Linked DNA regions of Homo sapiens. The protein of the gene in region 1 purifies or fractionates together with the protein of each later gene. This does not show direct contact. Each region holds a gene or a part of one and is shown in the gene's direction. Other genes may lie near its edges. The genes, in order: ABCB8, RASGRP1, ADPGK, BPNT2, RAB11FIP5, CCDC51 and PROCR.

Region 1 (4,153 bases):
CTGAAGTAATGTCTCCCTCTTCTGCCCTCCTTATTGGTTCTTGTCCCATGCCAGACAAGACATCACCTTCTTTGACGCCAATAAGACAGGGCAGCTGGTGAGCCGCTTGACAACTGACGTGCAGGAGTTTAAGTCATCCTTCAAGCTTGTCATCTCCCAGGTCAGTGGCCCAGTGGCCCCCACCACGTCCACACACACACTTTCCCATGTGGATTCACCAGGCCAGCCCTGCCCGCCCCAGCCCTGATGTTGGGCTGACAGGCGCATGCTGACTCGAGAAACCCACTGCCTGTGAGGGCATGGGTGAGGGACCATGGAAGTTCATGGAAGGAAAGTGTAGAGGCAGTGTCCAAGGTCAGGACAGGCTGCTTCTCCACTGCTCTGAAACCGAATCTTCCCTGGAAAGCCTTCCCAAGCACTCAGACAAGAGCCTTTCCTGGCAAGAGCAAAATCACTTCGCCTGCCTTGTCCCCAGAGTGCCTGGATTGCTGACAAGCATTGAGCATGTGCAGTGGCCTACCGAACACAGATGCCCTCCCCTTATCCGCCCACACCGACTCTGACTGCTGGATCATGCCACACACTGGCCTAGGCAGTCACTGGTGTACCCCCATGCAGTTCTCTTTGTTCAGTTCCTAGAACAGAAAGAGAAGCAAGCTGGGATTTGTCTAGGGGAAGGATGCCACAGTTCATAGCATTCTCGCTCGGCCCCCTCAGGCCTGCTGCTCGCACCCCAACTGGCCGAGTTAGGGTTACGTACTGTGACCGGTGGACTGCCACTGGGCCTCCCAGGGGCCAAGACCTGGGCCTTGGCCGTGGGAGTGCAGAGCTACAGTCAGCTGACCCTTGGAAAAGTCCTTCCTGTCATGGTGCGGACGCCGTAGCCTCCCGCCTTCCCTCCCACTCCCTAGGGGCTGCGAAGCTGCACCCAGGTGGCAGGCTGCCTGGTGTCCCTGTCCATGCTGTCGACACGCCTCACGCTGCTGCTGATGGTGGCCACACCAGCCCTGATGGGAGTGGGCACCCTGATGGGCTCAGGCCTCCGAAAATTGTCTCGCCAGTGTCAGGAGCAGGTACCGGCATTCCTGGCCATCCTCTTCACCCTCCCCACACCGTTTCTCTTTCCACTCCCCGGAACTCCTCCCTGTCCCCATCCTGGACTCCTTGTCCTGTTTTCTGGACTCCTTGTCCTGTTTCCTGGACTCCTTGCAGATCGCCAGGGCAATGGGCGTAGCAGACGAGGCCCTGGGCAATGTGCGGACTGTGCGTGCCTTCGCCATGGAGCAACGGGAAGAGGAGTGAGTCCTGGGAGGGCGGAGCACAAAGCAGAGATGCCCCCCACACCCTGCCAACCCTTCGTGCCAGCCCAGCTGCCTCCTGAATGCACTGGTCTCTCTCACCAGGCGCTATGGGGCAGAGCTGGAAGCCTGCCGCTGCCGGGCAGAGGAGCTGGGCCGCGGCATCGCCTTGTTCCAAGGGCTTTCCAACATCGCCTTCAACTGTGAGTGAGCCATTTGGGGGCTGGAGGGGCGCTTGTGGGCTGGGGAGGAGCTGGGAGCAGCCAAGGCAGGCAAAGGCCCTCCCTTCATCTGCTGGCTGCCTGCATTCGCCTCGGGCCAGCTGCTAACTCTTGCAGGTAAAGGGAGGGTGCCGATGTCCCAACCCAGCTATGGGACTCCATGTGGAACGCTACAGGGCCACCCTCAAGGAGGCCATGGAGGCGTGCCCACCCCAACTTGCTCTTCCGAGGAGGAAGCCAACGCTGGGACCAGTCATGCGCCTCACCTGACTCTCCCAGTCAGCAGTGGCAGAGCAGGCCCAGGGCTGTTTCCTCTGCCCTGGCTTCGTCCTCCCTCACTTCCCCTCTCCTGCAGGCATGGTCTTGGGTACCCTATTTATTGGGGGCTCCCTTGTGGCCGGACAGCAGCTGACAGGGGGAGACCTCATGTCCTTCCTGGTGGCCTCCCAGACAGTGCAAAGGTAAGTGGGGGCCGTTCCCATTGCTACAGAGCCCCCTGCCGCCCTCCAGAGCCCTGCTGGGTTAGGGGACACGGGTGCCAGCCTTCTCTGGGGGCCGACTGCTGTGCAGCTCCAGGCCTGCCCAGCTTCCCCAGGGATGCATAGGGTGGGGAGAGAGAGCCCCTCAGGGCCCATAACAACCCTCCTGGCTGGGGCAGTGGCGCTGCAGCAGGCAGGTGCTTGTCATCTTCAGCCTTCCAAAGGACCCAGAAGTTTCCTTGACAGGCTTTTTAAAAATTTGTTTCAACTGTGGTAAAGTACACAAAACATAAAATACAGCATTTTAACCATTTTGAAGTGTGCAGCTCATGGGCAGTGGGTGCACTCACATTGCTGTGCGGCTGTTGTCACCGTCCGCCTCCAGAACTCTTACCTGGCAGAGCGGAAACTATCCCCATGACATGGGAATCCCCATTTGCCCTCCCCCAGCCCCTGGCACCCACCATTCCACTTTCTGTCCTTATGATTTGACAACTCTAGGGACGTCCTCTAAGTGGAGTCAGACTATGTCCTTTTGTGACTGCGTTTTGTCACTCCACATTGTGTCCTCAGCTTCCTCCGTGTTGCACCCTGTCCGAATTCCCTTCCGCTGCAGGCTGTGACATTCCATGCATGGAAGGACCATCCTTGACAGGCTGTGTGAGCTGCCCTTCCCCATGCCTGCCACTTCCAGGGATGACAAGCTGACCCCTGTCCCCACACACCCCACCCTTATAGCTTATTGCTTTGCGTTGGTCCAAAACCACCCGCTCAGCTGAGCCTCTGGGATGACCAGAGCTGATCACCAGACAGCTCAAGGCGGGCCTCCCCCCTCCTATCTCTTTCCAAGCTAAACACAAGCAGTTCTACATAAATATGTTATGGTAAATAATGAGATAGTAAATATGCTGTAACAGATCATCAAAGGGTGAAGACCCGTCTCCACGAACCGTGCATCACCTCTGCCACCCCATCCCTCCCCCCACGACCCCCCTGCTCTTCCACCGGGGCCCCCACCCCATTCTACTGAGGCATGTGTCCTCGCCCTGCTGCATGGTGCACCCCTGCGTGTGTGTCCGCCGGATCAGAACCCCTCACTGCAGGGTGTACTGTCCCAGGAAGCGGGAGGCGGACGGAGACAGGCTCCCATTTTCAGCCCCAAACCTGACATTCCACAGAGACGTTCCTCCCATTTCCGCAGCTGCATGGACACCCTCGCGTGCCCCGTTTCTGCTCGTGCTCCCTAATCTGAGCACCTTCAGACCCTTTCTGGTCCCGGGCTCAGGCCTCCTTGGCAGCCTCGCCCTCCTCCAGCCCAAGGAGCTGTTCTGTCGTGGCTTTGGAATTCAGATGCTCTCACTGTGATAGAGATGGGGTCTTGGGGGGCTGGGAGCTGTTCTGTCGTGGCTTTGGAGTTCAGATGCTCTCACTGTGATAGAGATGGGGTCTTGGGGGGCTGCCTCCACCACTGCCTGCCCTGCTCAGCGCTGACCCACTTCCCTTGACCAGAGTTTTGGCCTCTCTGAATGGGACGGTCGTTTTAGTCCTGAGGGCCCATAAGAAGCCCAGTGGCGGCTGGGTGCGGTGGCGCACACCTGTAATCCCAGCACTTTGGGAGGCCGAGGTGGGTGGATCGTGAAGTTAAGAGATCGAGACCATCCTGGCCAACATGGTGAAACCCCGTCTCTACTAAAAATACAAAAATTAGCTGGGCATGGTGGTAGTCCCAGCTACTCGGGAGGCTGAGGCAAGAGAATCGCTTGAACCTGGTAGGCAGAGGTTGCAGTGACCTGAGATTGCGCCACTGCACCCCAGCCTGGCAACAGCAAGACTCCGTCTCAAAAAAAAAAAAAGAAGCCCAGTGGCTCCCTTAATAAAATCACCCCTTAGCCCTCTGTGGTGGGCAGTGGTGGGACAGTCTCCCTGTGGGGAGGGTGGCTGCACTGTCCAGCCCCAACCCTCCCGCTTCGGGACCCCCACTTCCCCTTTAGGGCCTGAGACTCTGACTTTACCTCCCACCGTACTGCTTGGCCATCCAGCAGCTTTATGACACACACAAGAACCCCCAGGGGCTTGTCTGTGCTGTTTCGCTGGCTGCTCCCACAGCCACAGGCCCTAGACCCATCCTCTTGGAGGTCCTTCTAGCGCTGCCTAT
Region 2 (4,153 bases), on another chromosome or scaffold:
GGGTACAAATCTCAGGTTGATTATATATGAGTTTTATAACCTTGGCTATGTCATTTACCCTTTTTTAGATTCAGTTTCAGTGTCATGAGATGGGGATAACATCCTTCTGGGCTGTAAGCCTCAAGACAGGGTCAGTCCCCAGCACGGTACCTGCCATAGCATAGGTACTCAATTCATGTCACCATTATTATTTTGCTTTTAGAGACTGATCCAATTCTGGGGCTATCACAGGGCCTGTTTGAAAATCAATTATGGCCAGAAACTTGAGTCCTGTACCACCGACTTGATCTTTCAGGAATTACTGCCTAGGGTTAGCAGATGCCCAATAACCAATTGTTGATTCAGTTTCACTGGACCTGCATCAGGTCAGAATAGAGCCGAGCGGCCACTGCAGACCAGCGCCCTGGAGCTAGTTTGAAACAACCTGAAGGGCCAGGGTGCCCCTGCACAGGTCTAGCTGTGTACTGAGTGGCCCCATAGTTCAGTTATACACCATCTCTTAGCAGGCTGGTTTCCCAAAACCCACATGTGCCTAGCATTTTATTTTGATCTAAGCACTTCTTCAGCCCCTTTGGTTGAGATTATATCCTGTCAGAGCAGCTTTCCCAGACACTGTCCCACAAACTGCCTCTTTCTTCTCTGGGAACATCATGCTTATTACTCTTGACACTCATAGAACACTTATTTAACATTTATGTAGCTTTCTTTTCATTATCTCAGTCTGATTCCTCAGCTATATTTTTGTATTAAGGAACTTCTAGACTGCCATTATGTAACAACAGCAGCTAGTATGTAATGAGTATATAAAGTACCCTCACCTAGACTATCTCGCTGTGGTCTTCTCTGGCCAATCACAATGCCTTACTCATAGAATAAACACTTAGAGATTAATTGATGCCATTATGCATTTATCATATATAGTGAGTAAAGTTACACTTCAGAGGTACGTTTTTTTCCTTTTTCTCTTTGCTGCTTTGGTAGTAAACTACAAAATAACCAAAGCCACAGTAGAGAGAGGAGAATTAACTAAATGCTCAAGAGAGTTACCAGCAACACTCATCACTATTAAACCATAAAAGATTATAGATATGGATCTGTGTGTGTATGTGTATTTTTTAATGGAGAAGACAATCAACTTCCCAAATCATTTCGCAAAATGACTTGTACTGATGAGGTCATGACCAGAGATAGAGCTGCGTGTGAGTAGATGAAAGTCCATTGGACTCTTAAGCCATTTCTAGATCCAAACTTGCCCTTTTACACTGAGTGCTGGAACAACGCTCTCACAGCTCTGCTTTCTGTTTCAATCAGGACCCAAGTAAGGATTTGAAAAAACGATGTTTAGTAACAAAAATGACTCATAATGGTTACCTGTATTATCAACCATGAAAAACAATATCTTAAAACCAACCAAGATTTGTAAGAAAGGCAGGACTCGCTTAAAATCTAAACACCACCATCATCACCCCTCACTTCCTGCACTTGAGTCCTCAGTCTTTGACTTCTCCCCCAAGGTCCTTAACGATGATTCTGAGGCTGCCTGACCTTGTGTAGTATCTCAGGTATTGCTCAAGATTAATGAAGTTAGCCAAAGATGATCTCGAACTCCCGACCTCAGGTGATACACCCGCCTTGGCCTCCCAAGGTGCTGGGATTACAGACGTGAGCCACCATGCCCTGCCAAAGTTAGCCAAAGAAACCAATGTAAATAATTTTTAAGATTCAAGTCAGTGGCTTAGTAGCTGAAAAAATGTATACATTGCTGGGAGCTAAGGACTGCCAAGATAGTCTTGCCTCTGCCATTCCCCTTCAGGAAGTGGGAGACAGTAGGACAGAGCAATCCTAATGCCAGGATGAAGAGCACTAGTTGCAACCCTGAAATCTCACCTTTGCTGGGGAGATGTCTCTTTAACAGCCAACCAGTCATTTGGTGCATTTGCCAAGTGGGAGGGGTATGGCTTCTATCAGCCCAGCTCCTGAGATTAATTGTCTTATCTCCATTCCCTTCCTCTCCAATCTGCCTTCAGAGCGTGGAGCTGCCCGTTTGTCCCCTCACTGCCTTCTCTCTTTCCCCAGGAAACCTTCCCATGGCTGCAGAGCTGCCTCTAAAGCAAGACTAGAGGCAAAGCCAGCCAACAGCCCCTTCCCCTCCCATCCCAGCTTGGCCCACATCACCCAGTTCCGAATGATGGTGTCTCTGGGACATTTAGCCAAAGGAGCCAGCCTGGACGATCTCATTGACAGCTGCATTCAATCTTTTGGTAAGTTGGCTAACTGCCCACAGGCATAAAAATCACTCTATTACTTTGTTCGTCCTTTAAAAGTGCTTTACGGAACAGCAATCTAGATTGTATTTTGGCTTTAAAAATAGCTTTTGAGCCTTTGAAATGTTGGAGACAGTCTGCAGAGCCTATGGCACATGACTATGTGGGTGTAATAGGTCGTGATGAGAAGTGCAATTTTAAAGTGAGAAAAGTTAGGAGAGTTTGCATTTCCATTTTTCTTAGGATGGAGGTTTTTCTTGTGATGAAAAATATCATAAAATGATATTGTGCATCTGGTGCTTTGAGACTTTTCTGTCCTTGCCTTCTTGGGGCACATAAAGACTGTTACATGAGCAAACTTTGTTATCAAACAGAAATTGGAATCATTTGGAGGAATAAAGTCCCAATAATTCCCCTTGCAATCTGGAGGGCAGATGTGGTGGAATAGGAAAGGACTGGGTAAAGCCAGGAGGTTTGTGACGAGAAGACACTGGTTAATAAATGTTGCAATGCAGGGTCAAGGGGCTGGGAAATAAATGTGGACACGCACATTTCAGACGCTGCACTCTGTCAGCACCTTTGCCCACCATGAGGGAGGCACAGCTTAGTGCAGCCATCAAGCAATTATCTGAAAAGATTTTTTAAAATGTTATAAGCGTGGTGTATTTTTGGATTTTTATTTGTGAAATAGTGATTGAAAAGTACTAAATATTTCCTCCCAAAAAATGATTAAAATTGATGGATTTCAATGAAATCATTGAATTCAAAGATTTCCAGCTTCCTGTTCCTCCTGTGGACCCCTTTTTGTATCCCTCCATCTCCCACGGTGAAGCAGAGGAGCCTGTGTGGCACAGCTCAGACATACCAACCCCCCCAAGCCTACCCCAACCCTGGGAGCCTCCTGGGAACCTAAGGGAGGCTTAGTCAGATCCTAGGCAGCTCATGATCCATGAGATCTCAGAATGACGGACTAGTGGCTGTGTGTGTTAAGTGCTTGCTCAGACCTTATGTATAGAATTGGGAAATACTTGACATGTTAGGGATATTCATTTAGTACAATGTAGTACAGCATTGAACAGTTTCAACTATTTCAACGTTGGTTTAAAGTACTGGTTCTCAAACATTAGAGTGTCAGAATCACACATGGAGGCTGTTTTTTGTTTGTTTCTTTGTTTTGTTTTTTAGCACACATTGCTGGGCCCCAACCCCAGAGTTTCTACTCCAGTAGGTCTGGGGTGGGGCACAAGAATTTGCATTTCTAACAAGTTCCCAGGCCATGCTGTTGCATCTGACCCAAGAAGCGCACTTCGCGAATCATTGCTTTAAAGTGCTGTTTGTTGTAGACTTTTTAACTTGGAAAAGAGGAAGAATTTTTAGTATTACTAGTTTAGCATTAAATTTTCATTAGATTTCTCTTTATTTTATACTTCAATCTTATTTCACACTTTAATCATTCAGTTAAGATGAATCTGGGAGCAGAATGAATGGCTTTCTATTTCAAAATAATCTCCTTAGAAAATATACTGCGAGGAGATAAACTAGAGGATGGTGGAGACCGGGGAGGCGCGGCTGACGTGGGGCCATTGTTCATCATGTACTCCACTCTCACTTCCTTCCCAACCTGAATAAACTGCAAAGTTCCTTACACCATTTCAGCAGTCAGATTTACTCGGCTTTAGCAGGCCACCATGACTATTTCCTGAATAAGGATTTTTCTTCTTTCTGTTTCACTATTGAAAAAAGAGGGACGAGAAACATGTTTATCACACCACCTTCCTTCCTTCCATACCTGTTGTGCAACTGCCGGCCGAGTTCAAGACTGTTTTTCTAATCTTCAAAGAATCATGTTATCAACCTGAAAAATACATGACTGATTCTGAAGTCCTTCC
Region 3 (4,153 bases), on another chromosome or scaffold:
CAGTTAAAAGCTCCCCATGCCAACCGATTCATCTTCTCTCACGACCTCTCCAACGGGGCCATGAATATGCTGGAGGTGTTTGTGTCTAGCCTGGAGGAGTTTCAGCCAGACCTGGTGGTCCTCTCTGGATTGCACATGATGGAGGGACAAAGCAAGGAGCTCCAGAGGAAGAGACTCTTGGAGGTAATGGCACTGTTACAGAATTTCACAGATCTCAGCTGGTGGTTTTCTTCAGGTTCCAGCCTCTCTTGGCATCTGCTGCCTTGTCTTAGGTCCTGGCCTCCCAGGGACATATCTTGGCAGCTGGCTGTGGAGCTTGCCTCCTGCTGCAGTGAGGCACCTCACTGTATCCCTTCAGATGTGGGCAGCAGCTTGAGTAGGACAGGGCAGAACATCTTCTTGCCTGAGCCTCTGCATCCTGTGCTAAACCGACCATGGCTGCAAGCTGCAGGGTTTGTAGTTTGTGTCCTTTGTGTTATTTGTATCATCTCACTTCACATCAGCTATGCTGCAACTCCTACAGATTCGTACAGCAGTCGAAGTGAACTGCCATCTCTGATTCTGTATCCCTGATGGCTCTGCACAGCCTAGTCTTCCCTGGTGGGAAGAGTGTCCCTTGTCCACAGAGGTGGTGGGGACCCACATTGCTTGTAGCTCCCGTGAGCATGCAAAGAAGGCCATTACCAGGAGGAACCGCCTCTCAGGATCTGATCTTTTCTTCCCTCTTTCTTGACTTCCTTCTATTTCTAATGGCAGTGCTTATCTTCTTCTCTTTGCAGGTTGTAACCTCCATTTCTGACATCCCCACTGGTATTCCAGTTCACCTAGAGCTGGCCAGTATGACTAACAGGGAGCTCATGAGCAGCATTGTCCATCAGGTAACCTCATGGGACCATCGTTTGGCCCTGATCCTCATAGAGCCTTGCAGAGAAGCTTTTTTGTGCAGTGGGACCATCTGTTTGGGCTCAGGGACTGGCTCACTGACATGTAGGTTTGTGTCACTCAGACCCAAGTCCATGGAGATCCAAATAAGGATCCAGGACTGTTCTGAAACAGCAGTATCTCCTACTAGGTTAAAGTTATGGCAGTGTAACTGACAGATTGTTGATCATATTTCTCCTCTGGAATGGAAAAGTTGAAAGTGAATGGAAAAAACTGAAAGCCCAGCTCAGCTGCTTTCAGTTGAACTTCAAGAAGCTCAAAGCAAAGAAACTTTGAGGGAACCTCCCTCCTTCCTCAGGCATCTGGGTGTTCAGTGCCTGCCTCTGGGCAGCAGCATTGACTAGTATAAATCTGAGCAGGTGAAGCTTCAGAACACAAGCTCTGGAGACCTGGGTTCGCATGCCAGCCTTGCACTCACGGGCTTCATGAACTCAGGCAAGTTACCTCACCTGGCAATCTAGTGTTACCTAATTTTAATTGGTAATATATTCATTTGGTTAAAAAATACCCAAAAACTATGAAAAGATATACAATGAAGTCTCCCTTCTACTTCCTCCCCTTCCCTACTTGCACCCTTCATCAGTTTATTTCCAGAGTTCTTTTGTACAAGTATAAGAAAATACAGAAATATATCCTGATTTTGTTTTCCATCCCTTTTTACCCAAAAAGATAGCATAGCCTACTGAATACTCTGTTCTTCACTTTGCTCTTTTTTTCACTAAATATATCTTGGAGATCTTCCTGCATCACTAACATGGAGAGTATCCTCTGTCTTTTCATAGCCATATGGTTAAAATGAATGTGTAGATGTACCTCCGTTTACTTAACCTGAACCTTCTGGATGGACATATTGGTTATTTACTGCCCTTTGCTGTTACACACAGTGCTGCAGTGAACAACTTGATACATGATTTTGTTTTGCCTGTGAACAAGTCCATATTTAGGAGAAAGTCTCAGAAGTAGAACAGCTGGACTGGAGCATAAAAAAGCACTTGTAATTTTGAGATTGCCAGATTGCCCTCCATAAGAATTATACCAGTTTACTTCCCACTGGCAATAATTACAAATACTTGTTCCCTCATATCCTTGCTACCAGAATGTTAAAATTTGCATTTATATCAGTCTGACAGATGAAAAAATGGTATTTCAGTATACAGTCATCCCTCGTCATCAGCGGTGTGTGGGGCGGCGGGGGCGGTTCCAGAACCCTTCCCAGATACTAGAATCTGCAGATGGTTAAGTCCTGCAGTTGGCCCTGTGGAATCTGTGGATTAGACAAGTTGGCCCTCCCTATCTGCAGGTTCCACATCCTTGAATACTCTGTTTTCCATCTGAAGTTGGTTGAAGCCATGGATATGGAGGGCTGACTGTCGTTGGTTTTGTTTTTTTTTTTTTTGATAGACTTCATTTTTTTTTTATGGTAATATTAGGTGCATAGCAAAATAGAGCAGAATCCAAGAGAGTTCCCATATACTTCCAGTCCCCTCACACACAAGCCTCCCCAACTACCAGCAGCCTGCACCAGAGTGGTACATTTGTTAAGCTAGTGAGCCTACACAGGCACGTCATCAGCACCCAAAGTCCATAGTTTACACTTGGGTTCACTCTTGGTGTTTTTCAGTATAGCTTTTGTTTGGGTTTTTCTTCTCACCTTTAAAAAAATGAGCCATTTCTATTTCATTTTCTCTGTAACTGTCTACTTAACCCTTCTGAGGCTTAGTCTGTACAATGGAGGCAGTCCCTCCTTCCCTCAGAAGATTACAGTAAGAATTGGATGAAATAAAGCCTTTAGCTCAGTGCCTGACACAGAAGAACATGCAGTGAAGGAAAGCTGCTATTGCTCCAACAAAGATGTAGGCCATTAAATTTTTAAAACCATTTTATACATGCACACATACATACAAGGACTCCTCTCTCCTGCAAAAATTGTTACCTTAAGTGTGGTTCTCTGGTTCTAAGGAGGGAAGTGCTAAGTAAGAAAGACAGGGAGGTGGATATTGTGGTTCCCCATCAGACAGAAAACACGGGCACCTGTTTGGTAATCTTTTTCTTACAGTGTTATTGCTAAATTCAGACAGTCTTCCTAACCCACACCTGCTTTTAAAAAGCTTAGCTCTAACATGAAACTGTATGCTTTTTGCTTCTTGGTGTTTTGTATAAAAAAAATCATTATAACCCTGACAGTATGTTGCTTGAGGTCTCCATTTTACTGGTCTAATACTGCTGACATTCAGGAACTGAGAGCCATGCCCCATCAGTGGTAAGAGTATCTCCTATGTGTGCAGTGGCAAAAGCTAGGGACCATGGAAAGAAACACAAAATATAGACACCTCTGCCTTTTGTCTTACAGTGGCATATCACAAAAGACTGCATCTGAAACAATGTTACTGCAGCTTTCCAGTTTCTCCCAAATGATGATGAAGGTGAAGATAGGGGTGTGATAGCTAAAACAGTGACTTCAGGGCCAGGGAGTCCTGTATCAAGGAAGAAAGCTGCCTGCCTGTGTTCCCTGTCATTTAGTCACTGGCTGTGTCATAAGACATCTTAGGAGCCAGGTTATCTCCATCAGAAAGATACCTGTTGTTGTTTTTGTTAGCAGGTCTTTCCCGCGGTGACTTCCCTTGGGCTGAATGAACAGGAGCTGTTATTTCTCACCCAGTCAGCCTCTGGACCTCACTCTTCTCTCTCTTCCTGGAACGGTGTTCCTGATGTGGGCATGGTCAGTGACATCCTCTTCTGGATCTTGAAAGAACATGGGAGGAGTAAAAGCAGAGCCTCGGATCTCACCAGGATCCATTTCCACACGCTGGTCTACCACATCCTGGCAACTGTGGATGGACACTGGGCCAACCAGCTGGCAGCCGTGGCTGCAGGAGCTCGTGTGGCTGGGACACAGGCCTGCGCCACAGAAACCATAGACACCAGCCGAGTGTCTCTGAGGGCACCCCAAGAGTTCATGACTTCCCATTCGGAGGCAGGCTCCAGGATTGTATTAAACCCAAACAAGCCAGTAGTAGAATGGCACAGAGAGGGAATATCCTTCCACTTCACACCAGTATTGGTGTGTAAAGACCCCATTCGAACTGTAGGCCTTGGAGATGCCATTTCAGCCGAAGGACTCTTCTATTCGGAAGTACACCCTCACTATTAGGAAGATTCTTAGGGGTAATTTTTCTGAGGAAGGAGAACTAGCCAACTTAAGAATTACAGG
Region 4 (4,803 bases), on another chromosome or scaffold:
TTGAGTGCTAGAACGCCTCTTGGAGCTACAATCTTTCAAGTGACTCCTTCTTTCCACATACCTTGGCATTTTCTCCCTCAAGTCTTAAATCCCTTTTTTGCAGTAGAAATGCTCCAGAGCTTTTAGTATTTCCCTCAGTGGTATACTGTGTATACTGCCACACTGAATGTGACCCTATATTATTCTCCAATATCCTTGGAAAATATTATTCCGTTTATTTTGAGAAATCTCAGACTTCCCAATGATGCTTTTAATATTGACATGATTACTATCCAACTCATCTTTTTGCTGCTGTCATAGTGTAGGTTGGGGTGGTTCTGTTTAACTTAAACCTTTATATTTCAACCCTGATGTTTATCTTTATCCCTGGGATGGGTTTTGAGAATTACTCTGTGACATTCACTTTTAGATATTTGAAAGCAGCTTTGCTTCATTGCAAAGTTACTCTCAAAAGCTGACAAGAAAGGCAATGCTAGTTCTTTAAGTTCTGGTGCTGTCAATACTCTAGGGATTGTTCTTTCACTGATTTGTATTTGTACTTGATTTTGTGCTGTGATTCTGGCAGGGAAATCACAGTGCTTTTGTTGTATGTGTATAATCTGGCAGTGCTTTTGTTGTATGTGTATAATCACATGCAAATTCTAGGGATGCCCTGAACTCTAAGTAAGCGGTAAAGGTCAGGCTCTACATGACTTGCTTAGCAATGGATGTTTAGAAGTTTGGTATACTTGCAGTTTTTCAGGTGGTTAATTCTAAAGTCCACTTAAAACCAATGCTGTTTTGCTATGAACAGTAAAACAGGCTACATTTTAAGTTGATTTATATAGATATTTTAACATTTAAGAACAATACTATACATCTTAATATTCACTTTTAAGATTAAAGATAAACTCATGAATACTTATAAAGTATTCACTATCATTCTAGCTAAGATCGGTGTTATAGTAGAAGGTAGTTATTTCTGTCAAAATACTTCGAGAGCCTACGCTGACTCAAAGATTACATGTTCTAGACTGACCATCTCCGGATAACCTCTATTTTAAGTGGACTCTGTCAAGCAATTCCTCTTCTTAAGCTCTGGTAGGAGAGCCAGGCTCGAGTACCCTTGGAAATGAGAGAAGCCTGGTTTGCTTTCTTTCATTATGAAAAACCCGGATCAAGGCATGTTTTTCAGCTGCTTCGAGGATGGTTTATTCTGGCAGGTGGAGGAGAGAAACTCTATACACACATAAGCATTTAGGGCACGACAAAGATGTCAACAGAATGAAGAGCCAAGTACAATTCTTCCCCTCACCGCCCAGTTCCCCGTCCTGCCGGGAAGAGCGCGGAGAAGCGACTTAAAGGTACAGGCTGTCTACACCCCCGCTGGCTAAAAAAGCTTGCAAATCAATCTTTTAAAATGGTTTATTGTGTTTTCCTCCATTCCTCAATAATCTGAGAGTGATGAGAAGACTAGACTGTTACTGTGGGTTTATTACAGCCAGCCATAGTCGTACAATGGGATATTTAATTTAAACACCCACAAGGCACTCAGCACAGCACACTGTCCTGTGCGGATTGCTGCTCGCCACTTCCAGGAATACCTTCCCACCCAGACCAAGGAAGGCAGCTCAGTCCAGCGCCTCCTGTCCCGCCCCGCCCCGCCCCAAGGGGAGGTGCCCAGCTCTCCCCGCCCCTCGCCCTCGCCCTCGCCCCGCCCCGTCGCGTAACCCGGATACACACCCACGCTCCCCTTTCACCTCGCGGCCGTAGGCTAACGTGGAAGTCGGACCAGCCGGCCGGCGGAAGAACCTAGAGCGCGCTGCCTGGCGAGTCAGGCGCGCGGGGCGGCGTTGGTGGTCTTCGCGGCGCAACTCGGCCTTTCCTGGGAGGGAGTGATGGGGCGCACCGGGGCCGGGGAGCGGGCGCCAGTGTAGCCCGCGCGGCGCCTGGCCCGGAGCGCGGCGGCTGCGGCGGCGGCGGCGGCGGGCGCTGGAGGCCTGTGAGAGCCGCAGCCCGGAGCGCCCGGCTTCCCACGCCATGGCCCCCATGGGCATCCGCCTTTCCCCACTGGGGGTGGCAGTGTTTTGCCTGCTGGGGCTCGGCGTGCTCTACCACCTCTACTCGGGCTTCTTGGCCGGCCGCTTCAGCCTCTTCGGCCTGGGCGGCGAGCCTGGCGGCGGCGCGGCGGGGCCCGCGGCCGCGGCCGATGGGGGCACCGTGGACTTGCGCGAGATGCTGGCTGTGTCAGTGCTGGCCGCAGTCCGCGGCGGCGACGAGGTGAGGCGCGTCCGCGAGAGCAACGTCCTCCACGAGAAGTCCAAGGGGAAGACGCGCGAGGGAGCCGAGGACAAGATGACCAGCGGCGACGTGCTGTCCAACCGCAAGATGTTCTACCTGCTCAAGACCGCCTTCCCCAGCGTCCAGGTGGGAGCCCACGGGCGGAGCGCCCACTCGAGCCGGGTAGCGCGTCTCGGCCCGTCGACTCTTAACAGTATGGGATGTGGAGCTTCTGGTTCCATTTTGTAGATGTGGAAATTGAGACGCAGAAGTTAACGTGCACAAGGTCAGACAGACAGCAGAGGAGCTGGGTGAGGTTGCACGTAGTCTGACTCAGGGCCCGTGCCCTTTTGGCTCGTCCTGGGTCGGGTGTGCGCCGTGTGTACCTGGGATCAGAAGGCCTTGAAACGAAAAGGCTGACAAAGTTAATTGCACCCGCAGCTTCAGGCTCCTCTGTAGAATTAAGGGGTTGGCTAAAATCCACCAAGACTCTCTATCCTTCCTTGATTTCATCCCTAGAAGGGTCGAAACTGGAGTACACATTTTCTGGGTGGCCTGCCAGTAGCCAGCTGAAAGACCGAGTCTTGTTGCAGAGCTGTTAGTGTGCGGGGCATTTGTGTGTGCGTGTGTGCGCTCGCGGGAGTCGGGGTGGGGGGGTGGGGGATGAGTATGCTCATTTCGCTGTCTTTTTGTCAGGACGCTCTAAAGTTTATAGTTTGCGGGCCCTTTAAGGAGGTACTTAGAAATATACCAGCTGTTGGTCCTACCTGGCCCTTGATTAAAGATCCATATTTACTCCAGAGAATAAGAATTAAATAACATTTGGCTTTTCTTTGGGTAGGTTTCTGGGAAGGGAGTTGACATTTTCTTAAGGAAATCCAGACATTTTGGATTTGTTATTAATACTTTTTGAATTCATCATTTCACTGGAGCTGCTATTGAGTTGAATAAAGCATATTTAAAATTTGCAGTTCCAGAAACTGCAAATTTTGTTGAGGAAGAGCTCAGCATAGCGTAGCAGCACCTTATTAACGTATATCTTAACTCACCTAACTGTAGTTTTGGCTACTGGGAAGAAAAATTGTCTTCACTGGAATTTTATTAGATAAACAGTGATGTGCAAACCCAGGCTTCTTTGGAAGGTGACTGACCTTTTACTGCTGATCTTGAAAGAGTTAGGAGAATATTGTCATTGTTTAGTTATGTATTTTGCATAAGGCTTCTTCCAGTCTATCATAATATTGCTTTGGTTTTGTTTTTTATTCTCCTCTCTTCCTCCCTTTTCTTTCGTCTTTTTCTTTTTCCAGTGGAAAGGAACATTGTATTTCCTAACATGAGCTACTGGATACCAGATGTAATTAACGTTAGAATTTTTTTTTTCAAATTTCTACTTAAAACACAGAATATTTCCACTTTTTCTTCTTCCCTACTCTGTTTTTATCATCACAAATAATACTTAAATTTTTTTGCATCTAGATGTAAGGTGTGTTTATGAAATATTTTACCCCCTTTCCAAAACATACGTGTTTCCTTCCCCAAGAATTTATAGAGGAAACAGGAGATTCAGAGAAGTTGCTATTTAATGGTTATAACAGTACTAATAATAACCATTTATTGAATATATTTTACATGCCCAAATACTGGCTACACAGGACTTCATTTGATCCTTAACAGCAACTTTAAGAAGTAAATTTTATTTCTGCCTACTATACAAACGGGAAATCTGAGGCTCGTGACACTCCAGCTTATATGAACTATCCCACATTTTAGCTAGATTTTTAGAAGGCTATTTAAAACTTATAATTGTAGAAGCTTAAAAGCAGTAATAGTGAAATACAGCAAGCAGAGTTGATTTTTCTTTTTTTAAGTAAAAACAAAAGTATCTTAAATGTTGAAAACACATCTGTATGTGTGTGCATTCTCATTTATTAGCAAACAATAAGGGAATGGCTGCCAAGGGCAGTGAGCTGCATTTTATTAACATAAAAGCTAAGCTTTTGGAATTGCAGATGTTGAAGTCTCTGGCTTAATATAAAACAACTTCTTGTTTTCTTGTGACTATTTGAATGTTTGCATGTGCTTCTGTAGTATTCATGTTGGGTCATGACTGAAGGAATAGAAGAGGTTTGTGATCATTTATACAGTGTCAAAGTAGGGATGGTGTCATGTTGAGCGATCTCCTTATACCCCTGTGTTATAGGCTAGAGGCCAAATATTGTAGCCAACTAAGTGGAGAATCAACCTAAAAGGAGTCTTTCTCCTTTTTTGCCTTCCCCTCTCCTAATGCCCAGAAGTACAGTCTTAAATCCCTGGTTAATTTTGAAGCCTCACCCCAAATTTCTTGGTAAGAAACTTAAATTATATCCCACTTAGTTTACTTCCTAGTGGAAAAAGACCATTGAGAAGCAACAGATACTTCTTTCTTTTATCCTAGTGCCCTATGTAAATGTAGAAAGATCTGTTTTCTCCCACTACTTTCCTATGTAGAGTCTGAAGTCTGAGCTTTCGTATGTAATGTTCACTCCTCAGTAAAAGGATATACCA
Region 5 (4,153 bases), on another chromosome or scaffold:
GGCAAGAAGAAGTATGATCTGGAATCTGCCTCTGCCATCCTCCCAAGCAGCGCCATAGAGGATCCTGACCTGGGCAGCCTGGGCAAGATGGGCAAAGCCAAAGGCTTCTTCCTCCGCAACAAGCTGCGCAAGTCGTCCCTGACCCAGTCCAACACCTCGCTGGGCTCGGACAGCACCCTGTCCTCAGCCAGCGGGAGCTTGGCCTACCAGGGACCTGGCGCCGAACTCCTCACCCGCTCACCAAGCCGTAGCAGCTGGCTGTCCACTGAAGGGGGTGAGCAAGCACAGGGCCGCCGCCCTGGGGAGGGGGGCACTGGCTCTCCCCTTGGGTGGTGATGAAGGCCTGGGGCCAGGAAATGGGGCCTCTCTTCCTGCGAGCTAACTCTGTGTGTTTCCCCTGCAGGCAGGGACTCTGCACAGTCCCCCAAGCTGTTCACCCATAAGAGGACCTACAGCGATGAGGCCAACCAGATGCGAGTGGCTCCTCCTCGGGCCCTTCTGGACCTTCAGGGCCACCTGGATGCTGCCTCCCGCTCTTCGCTCTGTGTCAATGGGAGCCACATTTACAATGAGGAGCCCCAGGGCCCTGTGCGGCACCGCAGCTCCATCTCGGGCTCGCTTCCATCCTCTGGCTCCTTGCAAGCTGTCTCTTCCCGGTTCTCCGAGGAGGGGCCTCGTTCCACAGATGACACCTGGCCCAGAGGCAGTCGTAGCAACAGCAGCTCAGAGGCAGTGCTTGGACAGGAGGAGCTGAGTGCTCAGGCTAAAGTCCTGGCCCCTGGGGCCAGCCACCCTGGAGAGGAGGAGGGGGCCCGGCTACCAGAGGGCAAGCCAGTCCAGGTTGCCACACCCATAGTGGCCTCCTCTGAGGCTGTGGCAGAGAAGGAGGGAGCCCGGAAGGAGGAACGCAAGCCCCGGATGGGTCTCTTCCACCACCACCACCAAGGCCTAAGTCGGAGCGAGTTGGGTCGCCGAAGCTCTCTGGGGGAAAAGGGGGGTCCCATCCTGGGGGCCTCCCCACATCACTCATCCAGTGGGGAGGAAAAGGCCAAGAGTAGCTGGTTTGGCTTGAGAGAAGCCAAGGACCCGACTCAGAAACCCAGGTAAGTCGTTGGCAAGACCAACTTTGCTCCTTGGGGAGGATGCTGGGGTGTGTGCTGCCTGGACCCTGGGGCAGGGAGGAAGGAGTAGATATGGACCTCAGGCAGGCTGCTGGGGCTCTGGCTTTGCATGGTTTAGTGGGGTGTCTCCCTAAGCCAAGGTTCGTTCTGTGCTCACGGACACAGGTGAGTTACGAGGGCATAGTGCTCTGAGAGTCCTATGGATTGAGGGGTCCGACTTCTCAGCCCTAGGCCTTGCTGCATGAGTTGGCATGCCCACCCCCTGAGCTGGAGGGAAGCAGGAAAGTCCATTTGTGTGAATTCTTTGCTTCCTGACCTCCACCTCTTGCCCTCTGGCCTCAAGGTAAGGAAGCCTTGGTAGAGAGATGAGGACTGGAGACCGCACTCTCAGACTTCCCTTCCCCTCTCTGGAGCTAGAGGACTTCTCCCCAGCTGTCTCTGTGATCACTTCCCTCTGGGAGACGGGAGTCAAATAACTGAAGCCACCACTCCTTCCCCCGTCCATTCACCTGCCAGTTGCTTCCCCAGGCAAGAGGCTGTGGGCAGCTCCCATGAAATCTGTAACCCATCTCTGTCCTTGGAGACCCTGGGAGCTCTGGCCCTCTCTGATGTCTCTTGGTCTTGAGGTATGGCACCGTGGGAAGTGCTGGTGGCAGCTGTTTTGTTTTGAATATACTGAGTCCCCCATTTCAGGCCCTGGGCAGAGACCCTGATGCCTACCATTTGCTTCCTCCTAATTCTGAGCCAGGAGAGGCTGCAGAATTGTATAGCAGGGTCCAGAGAGGGGCTCCAGGTACAGGTCACAGAAGTGTGTGTCGCACCTTCCCAAGGGCCTGGGGCCAGCCCTCATAGGCAGCATCTGTGGCAGCCCTGGCCAGTGTGGTGAGAGCACTGTTTCTCTCAACAAGCCTGCCCTTCCCGCTCCATGGCTGCTTGGACAGGTTTAGAGGACAAGCACAGTAACAAGGGGGCAAAAGATAGGGCAGAGGAAGGACCCTAAACCTGTTGCCCAGAGGGGAGAGGAATCTTGTAGTCCTGGCTTTTTGTTTCCCTGTGGCACTCTGAGTCTGTTGAGAGGAGTGGAGAGAGACATGCAGGCCTTTCTAGGTTTGGGCCATGGTCAGCTGACAATCCCTGTTAGACCCTCATAGATAGGGGTATGGGGGGGTGGATCAGTTTCAGGGGCATGCCACCCCTTGCCTCCCTTGCTTGGTATGGCAGCTCCTGTCCCTACTGCCCCGCCCCTACTCACCAGAGCTCAGGTGAGCTGCTGGCCATCTGCGGCCTAGGGGAAGATTGGGAAGAAGGGGACAGGCCTTTCCCAGATGCCAGGCTGAGCCTGGTGTCCCTGTGACAGCCAGCCAGAGGTATTTGGAGGTGGTAGGGTAGAGGGAGGTAGCAGGAGATCTGGACAGGGCATTTGCTGGGAGGAGCTGAGGGCCTGGATTGAAAGGGGCACAGAGCACAGGCTCAGTGTGGTTGTGCGTACGGTGTCTCTGGGCCTTTTCTGGGGCAAGGTGAATGCTGGGGCCATTTGTAGGTGAGTCCTGCCCAGGCTTTGGGCTTGGACTCCCACAGGCTGTGAGTCTGTGGGGTTGTCACTGGCCTGGGGCACTTACAGTCTCCATCCTCTTTCTCCTGCTTCCCCATATCTCCTAATGGCCTCTTGGAATCTGGAGGATTTGGGTCACTGATGGCCATAAGGAAGCTGAGGTTTCTGTCCTGCTGTCACTTGAATTCTGAGCCTTGTCTTTAGCAGGATGGAGGGCACTCAGCATCCCTCCCAAGATGGGGCCTATTTGCAGGTGGCGGCTGCAGGGCCAGGCTCTGTGGCCGTGCATGCAGATGGGGTGGGAGGGGCTGTGCTTTGGGTAAGATGGCCTGGCCTGGACAGATGTGACACCTGGCCTTTGAGCTCAATCAGCAGCATCCTGGCCTTGTGTGCCTTGCAGGGAGGGGAAGGCTGGCCTGGAAGAAAGGACTGTTGGCGCTTCCCCAGAGGGCTTGCTTAGGGCCTCTGAGGAGAGAAGGAGAGGTGGGCTGCCTCATGGCAGGAAGCTGTGGGTTAGACCCAGAACTGGAGTGACTGAATGTAGCTGCAGGATCTCCAGCTGGGGCCTGGGGAGCCTGTCCCCAGGTCCAGAGAATGGGGGCCTCTGCCTTGGGGCTACCATTGCAGATTGTGGGATGTTCCTCACTAGGAAGAACAGCGGCGCCCTCTAGTGCTCCCATGTGGCACTGATGCCCCACAGAGAGGCCCGGGGCTGAACGTGTTGAGTATGGTATCCAGAGAAAGGCTGCTGCCGTGGGGAAGGAACAAATGAGGCTATACAGGGCTGAGAAGAGGGTCCTGCTGTTCCTCTGATGTGGCCTTTGTCTGCTGGGGGCCATGGCAGTCACACTGGGCCCCTACCAGTGTGTGCTGGAGCAGGGAGTAGGTAGTTGAGACCAAGCTTGTCTTGGCCACAGGACTTAGCCTCATTCCCCTGCCCTGTTATGAGCCATTCACACTGAGCTGCAGCACAGGCTACTTCACGTGTGTTTGAGGACAGGCAAGACCACGCATTTTAAACCCGCCAGGGCCAAAGTGGATTGTCTTTGTGTCTATCCCGGGTCATCCTTGTGTTCCCTTGTTCCCCGCCCCCCACACTAACCATAGGACTCTATGCACAGAAGGGGATCAAATGTTGATTACAAAAACTTTTAAAGTTGGGAATAAGTGTGGTACAACATAGAGATGAGTGTATCATGATGGTGGCCTCTGGCAGTCTCTGCAGTGCCTCCCTGCACCAGGTGTGGTAGGCAACAAGGTCCCTCCCTGTGGGCCTGGAATGTGCTGTGGCAGCGGAAGGAGCTTGGCTGCATTCTTGGTGGTGTAAATGAGTAACTATAATGTGCTCCCAGTGGCTTGGAGTTAGTGCAGCCTCACGTCCTGCTCTCCTCATGTGCTCCTCACAACCATGCTCTTGTCATGGTTACTGTATTAACAGTGTTCTGGTTTGGAAGATAAATGATACGTTCTCCCTACTTAC
Region 6 (4,659 bases), on another chromosome or scaffold:
ATGTAAAATAATGCTTATGATGCACATAAAGTACTAGAACTGCTGGGCCTGAAAAATATTTTGAAATGTAATGAATTTCTCCTACATAAAAGATGTAAAAAAGGTGGAGGATTCAGTTAGAAAAGCATATGGAGCAACAGCACACTGAAGAGCCTGGACTTTATCTTTTAGTCTAGGCATACCCAGAAGTAAAAAGACTCAGAAAGCAAAAAAGCATATATTAGAGATAATATAAGCAGTACGAAAAAAAAAAAAAAGTTGGCCAGGTGCTGTGGCTCACGCTTGTAATCCGAGCACTCTGGGAGGCAGAGGCGGGTGAATCACTTGAAGTCAGGAGTTCGAGACCAGCTTGGCCAACATGGTGAAACTCCGTCTCTACTATAAATACAAAAAAAAACTGGCCAGGTGCGGTGGCTCACGCCTGCAATCCCAGCACTTTGGGAGGCTGAGGCGGGTGGATCACGAGGTCAGGAGTTCAAGACCAGCCTGGCTAAGATGGTGAAACCCCATCTCTACTAAAAATACAAAAATTAGCCGCACTCCGTCTCAAAAAAAAAAAATTAGCCAGGCGTGGTGCCAGGCGCCTGTAATCCCAGCTACTTGGGAGGCTGAGGCAGGAGAATTGCTTGAACCCGGAAGGTGGAGGTTGCAGTGAGCCGGGATCACGCCACTGCACTCCAGCCTGGGAGACAGAGTGAGACTCTGTCTCAAACAAAACAAAACAAAACAAAAAAACTTCTAAGTCAAGTAAGGTTCAAACACTAGAAGGCAGTGAAATACGAATTTGGGGCAAAAGATTGCGGACGACGTCAGACTTTGAGAAACTTAACTGTGAATCTGCGTCTGAGGTAAATACATTTCACTGTTTCCGTTTCTGCAGCTCTTCCTAAGGAATGGAAGCCCAGACTGCCTGGGAGGCAGGAGACCTCGTTTCCAGCTCCCGGCCCTTACTGCCGCTGCAAATCCTAGACTGGCTAGAGACCATTCGCTGCAGCGGACGTCGGAAAACGAGACCTCGCAGTTCAGGAGGCAGGAAAAAGACATGCCCGCGCCCTCATCCCAATAGGTGCTCATAGCGTTTGGCCAGCTTGAGCTCCATTCGGCCCCCACTTACCCAAGGGCCCCTTCCCCGCGGCCTTCGCTTTTAGCTCCTCGAGTTTCTTCTGCTCCTCTTTTTGTTTCTGCTTGAAAGCCTTATCTTCCTGGGGAGAGGCAGAGCGTGTTCAACTCAGGCCTGTCTCCCAGCGCCCCCGCACCCGCCAGTGCCTCCGCGCCCGCCCTCACCTCGTCCATCTCCTTGGCCTGCTTCTTGGGCTGTTTCAGTGGCTTCTTCTTGCCACCTGTGGGCGACACGAGCACGTTCGGCCTGCCCCTGCCGCCCGGTCCCCACCCCGCCGTCCCCGCAGTCCTCACGGTTCCGGAACACTTACCTTCGCGGCCGGACATGGCGCCTGCCGCCGCTTCCCCAGACCCTGCCACCGGAAACGGAGCGTCTGCCCCACCCTTTGTCGTAGACAGCGAGGCGGCCCCGCTGATTGGCTCCTAGTCAGGAAGTTGAACTCTCGCTACCGGATGCGGCGCTCCAGGGGCGGGTACTAACAGGTCAGAGGTCAACTGAGTGGCAGACGATTGGTCGGGCCACGCCAGGTACGAGGAGCTAGGGTTGTCCTGCCAGGGTAGAATCGGAACCGTAGGAGGGGTACTTAACCGGACGGCCTACCAGGCCTGTGGCCGTGCGCGGGAAGAGCACTGCAGGTAGACAGCAGGGCATGTGCATGTGCAAAGAGCTTCAAGCTCGTCGCTTTCCTGGAACCAAGGAAAGCACAGCTTGGGTGGAGGGAGATTAGGCGGGGAGATGGCAGAAGTGGACGGGAGTTATATCACGTGGTCCTATAGCTTTGGAAAACCCTGTAAGGAGTTTTATAATATAGTCAGGGGTGCAGCAGTTTGCGAATTCTGTTTGTTCATCTATGAAAATGGTCAAAAAAATTTATTTTGGTGATGGCCATACAACTCTGTTAATATAGTAAAACTACTGAATTGTACACATTGGGTGAATTATATGGTATGCAAGTTATATATCAATAAAGCTTTTTTTTCTTTTCCCCCCGAGATGGAGTCTTGCTCTTGTCTCTCAGGCTGGAGTGCAATGGCACGATCTTGGCTCACTGCAACCTCTGCTTCCTGGGTTCAAGCGATTCTCATGCCTCAGCCTCCCCAGTAGCTGGGATTACAAGTGCCCGCCACCATGTCCGGAAAATTTTTGTATTTTTAGTAGAGACGGGGTTTCGCCATGTTGGCCAGGCTGGTCTCGAACTCCTGACCTCGTGATCCCCCCGCCTCAGCCTCCCAAAGTGTTGGGATTACAGGCGTGAGCCACCGCACCCAGCCAAAGTTGTTATTTTTTTAAATAACAGTGCTGAGCGCTGGGATGCTACAGTGTCCAGAGATTAGGCAGATGAGTACATTTTTTGCTGGGTACGTACTATATGTAGGTACCAAGCTGAAATTCTAGTGAGTGAGACAGACTATAACCAAAGCAAATAAATGGGATACATGTTGCAGGTCATGTGATATATGCATGGAAAAAATAAAGCAGAGAAAGTGGGTCAGGAGTGCTAGGGTGGGAGTGGGATGGCCATATCTGATAGGGTGCATGGGGAAGACCTCCCAAGGGGCTACTATTTGAGCAGGACTTGAAGAAGGTGAGGGAGCGAGCAGCACAGATAGCAGCTGTCGTGAAGGCCCTGAGCTGGGGACAACTTGGTGCGTTCCAGCAACTTCAAGAAGGTCCATGTGCTTGGAGTGGAGTGAGGAAAGGGAGACTAGTGGGAGATGAGGTCAGAGAGGAATGAGAGCCAGTGGGTAGGTTCCCTGTAGGCCATGGAAAAGACAGGCTTTTACCTTGAGAGAAGTGGGGAACCATTGTAGAGGTTGAGCAGAGAGACAATGGTTCCACCTGTGTTTGGAAAGGAACACTGACTGCTCGACTGACAATAAATTGTAGGGGCTGGAATAGAAGCAGGGTGACATCTGTCAGGAGGCTCTTGGGATAATCCAGGCTAGAGATGTGATGTGGGTCACTGGGACCATTTGGTAGCAGTGGCAGAGGTGAGAGGAGGAGGGATCCTGGATTTGGAAAGCCAGGGGCATTTGCTGATAGATGGATGTGAGGTGGGAGAGAAATGAGGAATCAGGGGTGATGCGAGGTTGTTGATCTGAATATTTGAACTTGGTATTGCTGTCATCCATGATGGAGAAGGCTATGGGAAAAAAAGGTTTGGGAGGGGAAGATGAGATCCCCATTAGATTTTCAGGCAGAGATATAGGTTGGGAAGTTTGATAAATGAGCCTAGAACCCTGGGGAGAGAGGTCTGCGCTGGAGGAGTCAAGAGTATAGTTCTGTTTTTTTTTTAAAAAAACAACTTTATTGATATATAACTTGCATACCATGTAATTCATGCAATGTGTACAATTCAGTGGTTTTATTATATTCACAAAGTTGTATGGCCATCACCAAAATAAATTTTTTTGACCATTTTCATAGATGATTTTTAAAACCACAGGACTGGATAAGAGAGGAGTCTGAGTGCCGAGTGCCGGGGTGCTACAGTTTCCAGAGGTTAGGCAGATGAGTGGGGACTGGAAACCGAGTGAAAAATGGCATGTGAAGGAGGAGCAGGTGAAGGCCAGATCAGAGGGAGCTGGACGGAATCAGAGAAGAGGAACAGAAACAGTGAATTCAGGCAGTCTGTCAAGGAGTTTGGTTATAAAGGAAACCAAAGAAATGGGGCAGTTGCTGGTGGGGGGGTGTCAGATCAATTACTGAGTAATGTCTCAGGAGGAGAGAGGATTTGGGACCTGGGGCACAGGTTGGTTTTCCCTAGAAGCATGGGTTTTTTATCCTGAGGATCAAGAGAGGAGGTGGAAATGGGGCAGTTACTGATGGTTGGGAAGGTATGGTGGGAGTTTGTGGAAGTTCTCTTCCAACTTTTTATTATTTTCTTGATGGAAAATGAAGCAAGCAGACCATCAGCTGGAAGTGAAGATGAGGAACAGATGATAGAGGCTTGAGGAAGGGGCAGTTGGTAGGAGACAGCCATCTACATAGAGCGGGAGAATGGATCTGAAGGGGCAGGATTCCGAACTTGACCCTCAGGGCCCTGCTTCACCTATCCAGCCTCTCCATCCACTCTTCTCTGCTTTTGCTTTCCAGTTGCACTGACTGCCTTTCAGGTTTTGGGCGACCTCAAGCACTTTCCACCTTTTCTCTTTGCCAGGAACATTCTTCTCCTTGCTGGTTGGGGGGCCTGTGAAACATCTAAGTGGTGACATCCTGGGGGCTGAGAAACAGGGCCCAGGGTTGGGGGCTGGTGGGATGGTGGAGAGGCTGAGGGGAGGGACTGGAGTGGAGAAACAACTCCAGTTGCCACATGGGAATTATTGCCACATTCCCTTATGAAGTCTGTTGTCACCCAGCTTATGTTCTAGTGAGAGAATAGGCAACACATAAGGAAATATATCCATCAGGAGAAAAATAAAGCAGAGAAGGTAGCTGGGGAGGGAGTGGTCAAGGAAGCCTTACTGAGAGGTGATATTTGGGCAAAGATGAAGATGTCGGGGTGAGCCGAGTAGACTCGTGGAGGAAGAGTCATCCAG
Region 7 (3,444 bases), on another chromosome or scaffold:
CCTTGCAGGAGCCCGAGAGCTGGGCGCGCACGCAGAGTGGCCTGCAGTCCTACCTGCTCCAGTTCCACGGCCTCGTGCGCCTGGTGCACCAGGAGCGGACCTTGGCCTGTGAGTAGGCGCGCAGCGGGGGCGGGGTCTGGGCGGGGCTAGTGGGGGCGGGGCCTGGCGGGTGGGGGCGGGGCCTGGCGGATGGAGGCGGGCTGGGACTTGCAGGGACCCGGCAGCCACTGGAGCTCGGTGGCGCCTGGGCCTTTGAAGATTGCTGGGTGGGGGCTGGAGAGAGGCAGTTGTCCCCGCTAAGAAAGCCCCGACTCGGGCGGTCGTCCTGCTGGCATAACCTCTTGGGATAGACCCTGTTGGAAGGCCCTGACACCGTGACGTCGAAGGTCCCCAGAAAACTCCTCACCCCTCGCCTCACAGTCCTCCAACTCCTTTTCTTCATAGATCTCCGTCCTTCCCTTCCCACAGCCCCCAGCACTTCACCCCCCACCCTCCAGCCACTTCTCATACAAGCTGATGACTTCGCTCTTAGCTCCACTCATGACCCGAACTCTTCCCCCAAAGACCCCAAGTTCTTCTCTCAAAGCCCCACTCCTTCCCCGTCACAACCCTAACTCCTTCTTCTCAAAGACCCCAATTTCTTTTCTCAAAGCACCAAGCACCACTCCGTCCCCCTTCCCCCACCATCATGGCCTTTAACTCCTTTCTCTCCTAGTCCCCCACCCCACCCCCCTTTTTTTTTTTTTTTTTTTTTTTTGAGACGGAGTCTTGCTCTGTCGTCCAGGCTGGAGTGCAGTGGCGCGATCTCGGCTCACTGCAACTTCCGCCTCCCGGGTTCAAGCGATTCTCCTGCCTCAGCCTCCCAAGCAGCTGGGACTACAGGCACCCGCCACCACGCCCGGCTAATTTTTTGTATTTTTAGTAGAGACGGGGTTTCGCCATGTTGGCCAGGCTGGTCTCGAACTCCTGACCTCAGGCGATCCACAAGCCTGGCCTCCCAAAGTGCTGGGATTACAGGCGTGAGCTGCCGCCCCTGCCCCAGCCTCACCCCCTGTTTTTTTTTTCTATTACAGTTGAACAAGGCCTGACAATTCCCTTTTTTCATCACAGTCCCTGGCCCCTTCTTTCTTAGCCTCTAACAGGCTAACCCCAAACCCCTCCTCACAGCCCCAGGCCCTTCTCCCCATAGTTCCCTGACCTAGACTCCCCTCTCCTCACAGCACTGACTCTTGCCTTCTCATGTTCTTTTCCCCTTGGTGGGCCTCGCCCCACACCTGGCACCCTCTCTGCACAGTCCCCTGACCCTGACTGTCTATCCACAGTTCCTCTGACCATCCGCTGCTTCCTGGGCTGTGAGCTGCCTCCCGAGGGCTCTAGAGCCCATGTCTTCTTCGAAGTGGCTGTGAATGGGAGCTCCTTTGTGAGTTTCCGGCCGGAGAGAGCCTTGTGGCAGGCAGACACCCAGGTCACCTCCGGAGTGGTCACCTTCACCCTGCAGCAGCTCAATGCCTACAACCGCACTCGGTATGAACTGCGGGAATTCCTGGAGGACACCTGTGTGCAGTATGTGCAGAAACATATTTCCGCGGAAAACACGAAAGGTATGATGGGACGGGGCCCAGGCCTGCAAGCTGGGGAGAGGGCGGGTTCCAGACAAATGGATGGACCTGAAGGATGGATGCCTAGAGCAACAAGAGGCCCACAGCTGGGGGTTTGGGACAGAACACACGCAGCTTCAGTCAGTTGGTAAACGGGTCCCTTTCCTCTGGGGCAGAAACGCTTTGGGGTTTGACTCAAATCATGGACTCCTTGGGGGCCTATTCTTCGGGCTAACTCTTTGCATGTTCTGCAGGGAGCCAAACAAGCCGCTCCTACACTTCGCTGGTCCTGGGCGTCCTGGTGGGCAGTTTCATCATTGCTGGTGTGGCTGTAGGCATCTTCCTGTGCACAGGTGGACGGCGATGTTAATTACTCTCCAGCCCCCTCAGAAGGGGCTGGATTGATGGAGGCTGGCAAGGGAAAGTTTCAGCTCACTGTGAAGCCAGACTCCCCAACTGAAACACCAGAAGGTTTGGAGTGACAGCTCCTTTCTTCTCCCACATCTGCCCACTGAAGATTTGAGGGAGGGGAGATGGAGAGGAGAGGTGGACAAAGTACTTGGTTTGCTAAGAACCTAAGAACGTGTATGCTTTGCTGAATTAGTCTGATAAGTGAATGTTTATCTATCTTTGTGGAAAACAGATAATGGAGTTGGGGCAGGAAGCCTATGGCCCATCCTCCAAAGACAGACAGAATCACCTGAGGCGTTCAAAAGATATAACCAAATAAACAAGTCATCCACAATCAAAATACAACATTCAATACTTCCAGGTGTGTCAGACTTGGGATGGGACGCTGATATAATAGGGTAGAAAGAAGTAACACGAAGAAGTGGTGGAAATGTAAAATCCAAGTCATATGGCAGTGATCAATTATTAATCAATTAATAATATTAATAAATTTCTTATATTTAAGGCATTGTTATCTCCTCCACTTTGCAAAATTTCTGGAAAAGTAACCTATACCCATTTCTTCTGCTTCCTTATTTCTCACTCATTCTTTTTTTTTTTTTTTTTTTTTTTGAGACAGAGTCTTGCTCTGTTGCCTAGGCTGGAGTGCAATGGTGTGATCTCAGCTCACTGCAACCTCTGCCTCCCGGTTCAAGCAATTCTCCTGCCTCAGCCTCCCAAGCAGCTGGGATTACAGATGCATGCCACCACACCCAGCTAATTTTTGTATTTTTAGTAGAGATGGGGTTTCACCACGTTGGCCATCCTGACCTCGTGATCCGCCTACCTCGGCCTCCCCAAGTGCTGGGATTAGACGTGAGCCACTGCGCCTGGTCTTCTCACTCATTCTTAGACCCAGTGCAATCTGACTTCTCTATAAACTACTCTGAGATCACCAGTAACCTCTAATTGTCAAACCATCACCCTACATGGTATCTGCAAATTTGCGGACTAGAACTCTCTTTTTGCCTTAACTTCTGAGATACCATACTTCAATTTTTAAAACTGTTCTGTCTACTTTTTTTCAATCCCTTTGACTATGTCATCTTACACGATTCACCCTGGAAATGCTGGCTTCCTTAGAATTCCATTTTTTGGTTCCTTTTGTTCCTGTTTGAACTATACCCTTTCTAGGTGACCTACTGACCTTCATGGCTGCAAATACTATCTACCTGTGGTTTCCATGGAGAAGCAATATAATTTTATCTTTAAGAGCATGTGTTTTGTCGGCCAGGCGCGGTGGCTCACGCCTGTAATCCCAGCACTTTGGGAGGCCGAGGCGAGAGGATCACTTGAGGTCAGGAGTTCAAGACAAGCCTGGCCAACACAGTGAAACCCTATCTCTACTAAAAATACAAAAATTAGCTAAGTTTGGTGGCACGCGCCTGTAATCCCA

What was found.
Region 2: the proteins of ABCB8 (region 1) and RASGRP1 fractionate together in Homo sapiens (co-fractionation; one large-scale study listed by BioGRID). This does not show direct contact.
Region 3: the proteins of ABCB8 (region 1) and ADPGK fractionate together in Homo sapiens (co-fractionation; one large-scale study listed by BioGRID). This does not show direct contact.
Region 4: the proteins of ABCB8 (region 1) and BPNT2 fractionate together in Homo sapiens (co-fractionation; one large-scale study listed by BioGRID). This does not show direct contact.
Region 5: the proteins of ABCB8 (region 1) and RAB11FIP5 fractionate together in Homo sapiens (co-fractionation; one large-scale study listed by BioGRID). This does not show direct contact.
Region 6: the proteins of ABCB8 (region 1) and CCDC51 purify together in Homo sapiens (co-immunoprecipitation; one study listed by IntAct). This does not show direct contact.
Region 7: the proteins of ABCB8 (region 1) and PROCR fractionate together in Homo sapiens (co-fractionation; one large-scale study listed by BioGRID). This does not show direct contact.

What each region holds. Positions count from the first base shown.
Region 1 is NC_000007.14:151,034,670-151,038,822, forward strand, and holds part of ABCB8 (mitochondrial potassium channel ATP-binding subunit), read left to right. Parts: intron 1-54; coding exon 55-160; intron 161-911; coding exon 912-1,073; intron 1,074-1,212; coding exon 1,213-1,298; intron 1,299-1,403; coding exon 1,404-1,501; intron 1,502-1,874; coding exon 1,875-1,980; intron 1,981-4,153. UniProt on the Homo sapiens protein: ATP-binding subunit of the mitochondrial ATP-gated potassium channel (mitoK(ATP)). Together with pore-forming subunit CCDC51/MITOK of the mitoK(ATP) channel, mediates ATP-dependent potassium currents across the mitochondrial inner membrane.
Region 2 is NC_000015.10:38,557,929-38,562,081, reverse strand, and holds part of RASGRP1 (RAS guanyl-releasing protein 1), read left to right. Parts: intron 1-1,468; exon of another isoform or gene 1,469-1,954; coding exon of another isoform or gene 1,955-2,076; coding exon 2,077-2,261; intron 2,262-4,153. UniProt on the Homo sapiens protein: Functions as a calcium- and diacylglycerol (DAG)-regulated nucleotide exchange factor specifically activating Ras through the exchange of bound GDP for GTP. Activates the Erk/MAP kinase cascade.
Region 3 is NC_000015.10:72,752,281-72,756,433, reverse strand, and holds part of ADPGK (ADP-dependent glucokinase isoform 4 precursor), read left to right. Parts: coding exon 1-183; intron 184-779; coding exon 780-878; intron 879-3,292; coding exon of another isoform or gene 3,293-3,319; exon of another isoform or gene 3,320-3,365; intron 3,366-3,538; coding exon 3,539-4,093; 3' UTR 4,094-4,153. UniProt on the Homo sapiens protein: Catalyzes the phosphorylation of D-glucose to D-glucose 6-phosphate using ADP as the phosphate donor. GDP and CDP can replace ADP, but with reduced efficiency.
Region 4 is NC_000008.11:56,990,802-56,995,604, reverse strand, and holds the start of BPNT2 (Golgi-resident adenosine 3',5'-bisphosphate 3'-phosphatase), read left to right. Parts: upstream 1-1,737; 5' UTR 1,738-2,019; coding exon 2,020-2,406; intron 2,407-4,803. UniProt on the Homo sapiens protein: Exhibits 3'-nucleotidase activity toward adenosine 3',5'-bisphosphate (PAP), namely hydrolyzes adenosine 3',5'-bisphosphate into adenosine 5'-monophosphate (AMP) and a phosphate.
Region 5 is NC_000002.12:73,085,000-73,089,152, reverse strand, and holds part of RAB11FIP5 (rab11 family-interacting protein 5), read left to right. Parts: coding exon 1-274; intron 275-403; coding exon 404-1,103; intron 1,104-4,153. UniProt on the Homo sapiens protein: Rab effector involved in protein trafficking from apical recycling endosomes to the apical plasma membrane. Involved in insulin granule exocytosis. May regulate V-ATPase intracellular transport in response to extracellular acidosis.
Region 6 is NC_000003.12:48,437,084-48,441,742, reverse strand, and holds the start of CCDC51 (mitochondrial potassium channel), read left to right. Parts: upstream 1-1,623; 5' UTR 1,624-1,755; intron 1,756-4,659. Other genes in the region: TMA7 (translation machinery-associated protein 7), read right to left, coding at 1,115-1,202, 1,285-1,340, 1,431-1,446.
Region 7 is NC_000020.11:35,174,846-35,178,289, forward strand, and holds the end of PROCR (endothelial protein C receptor precursor), read left to right. Parts: coding exon 1-108; intron 109-1,322; coding exon 1,323-1,601; intron 1,602-1,852; coding exon 1,853-1,968; 3' UTR 1,969-2,517; downstream 2,518-3,444. UniProt on the Homo sapiens protein: Binds activated protein C. Enhances protein C activation by the thrombin-thrombomodulin complex; plays a role in the protein C pathway controlling blood coagulation.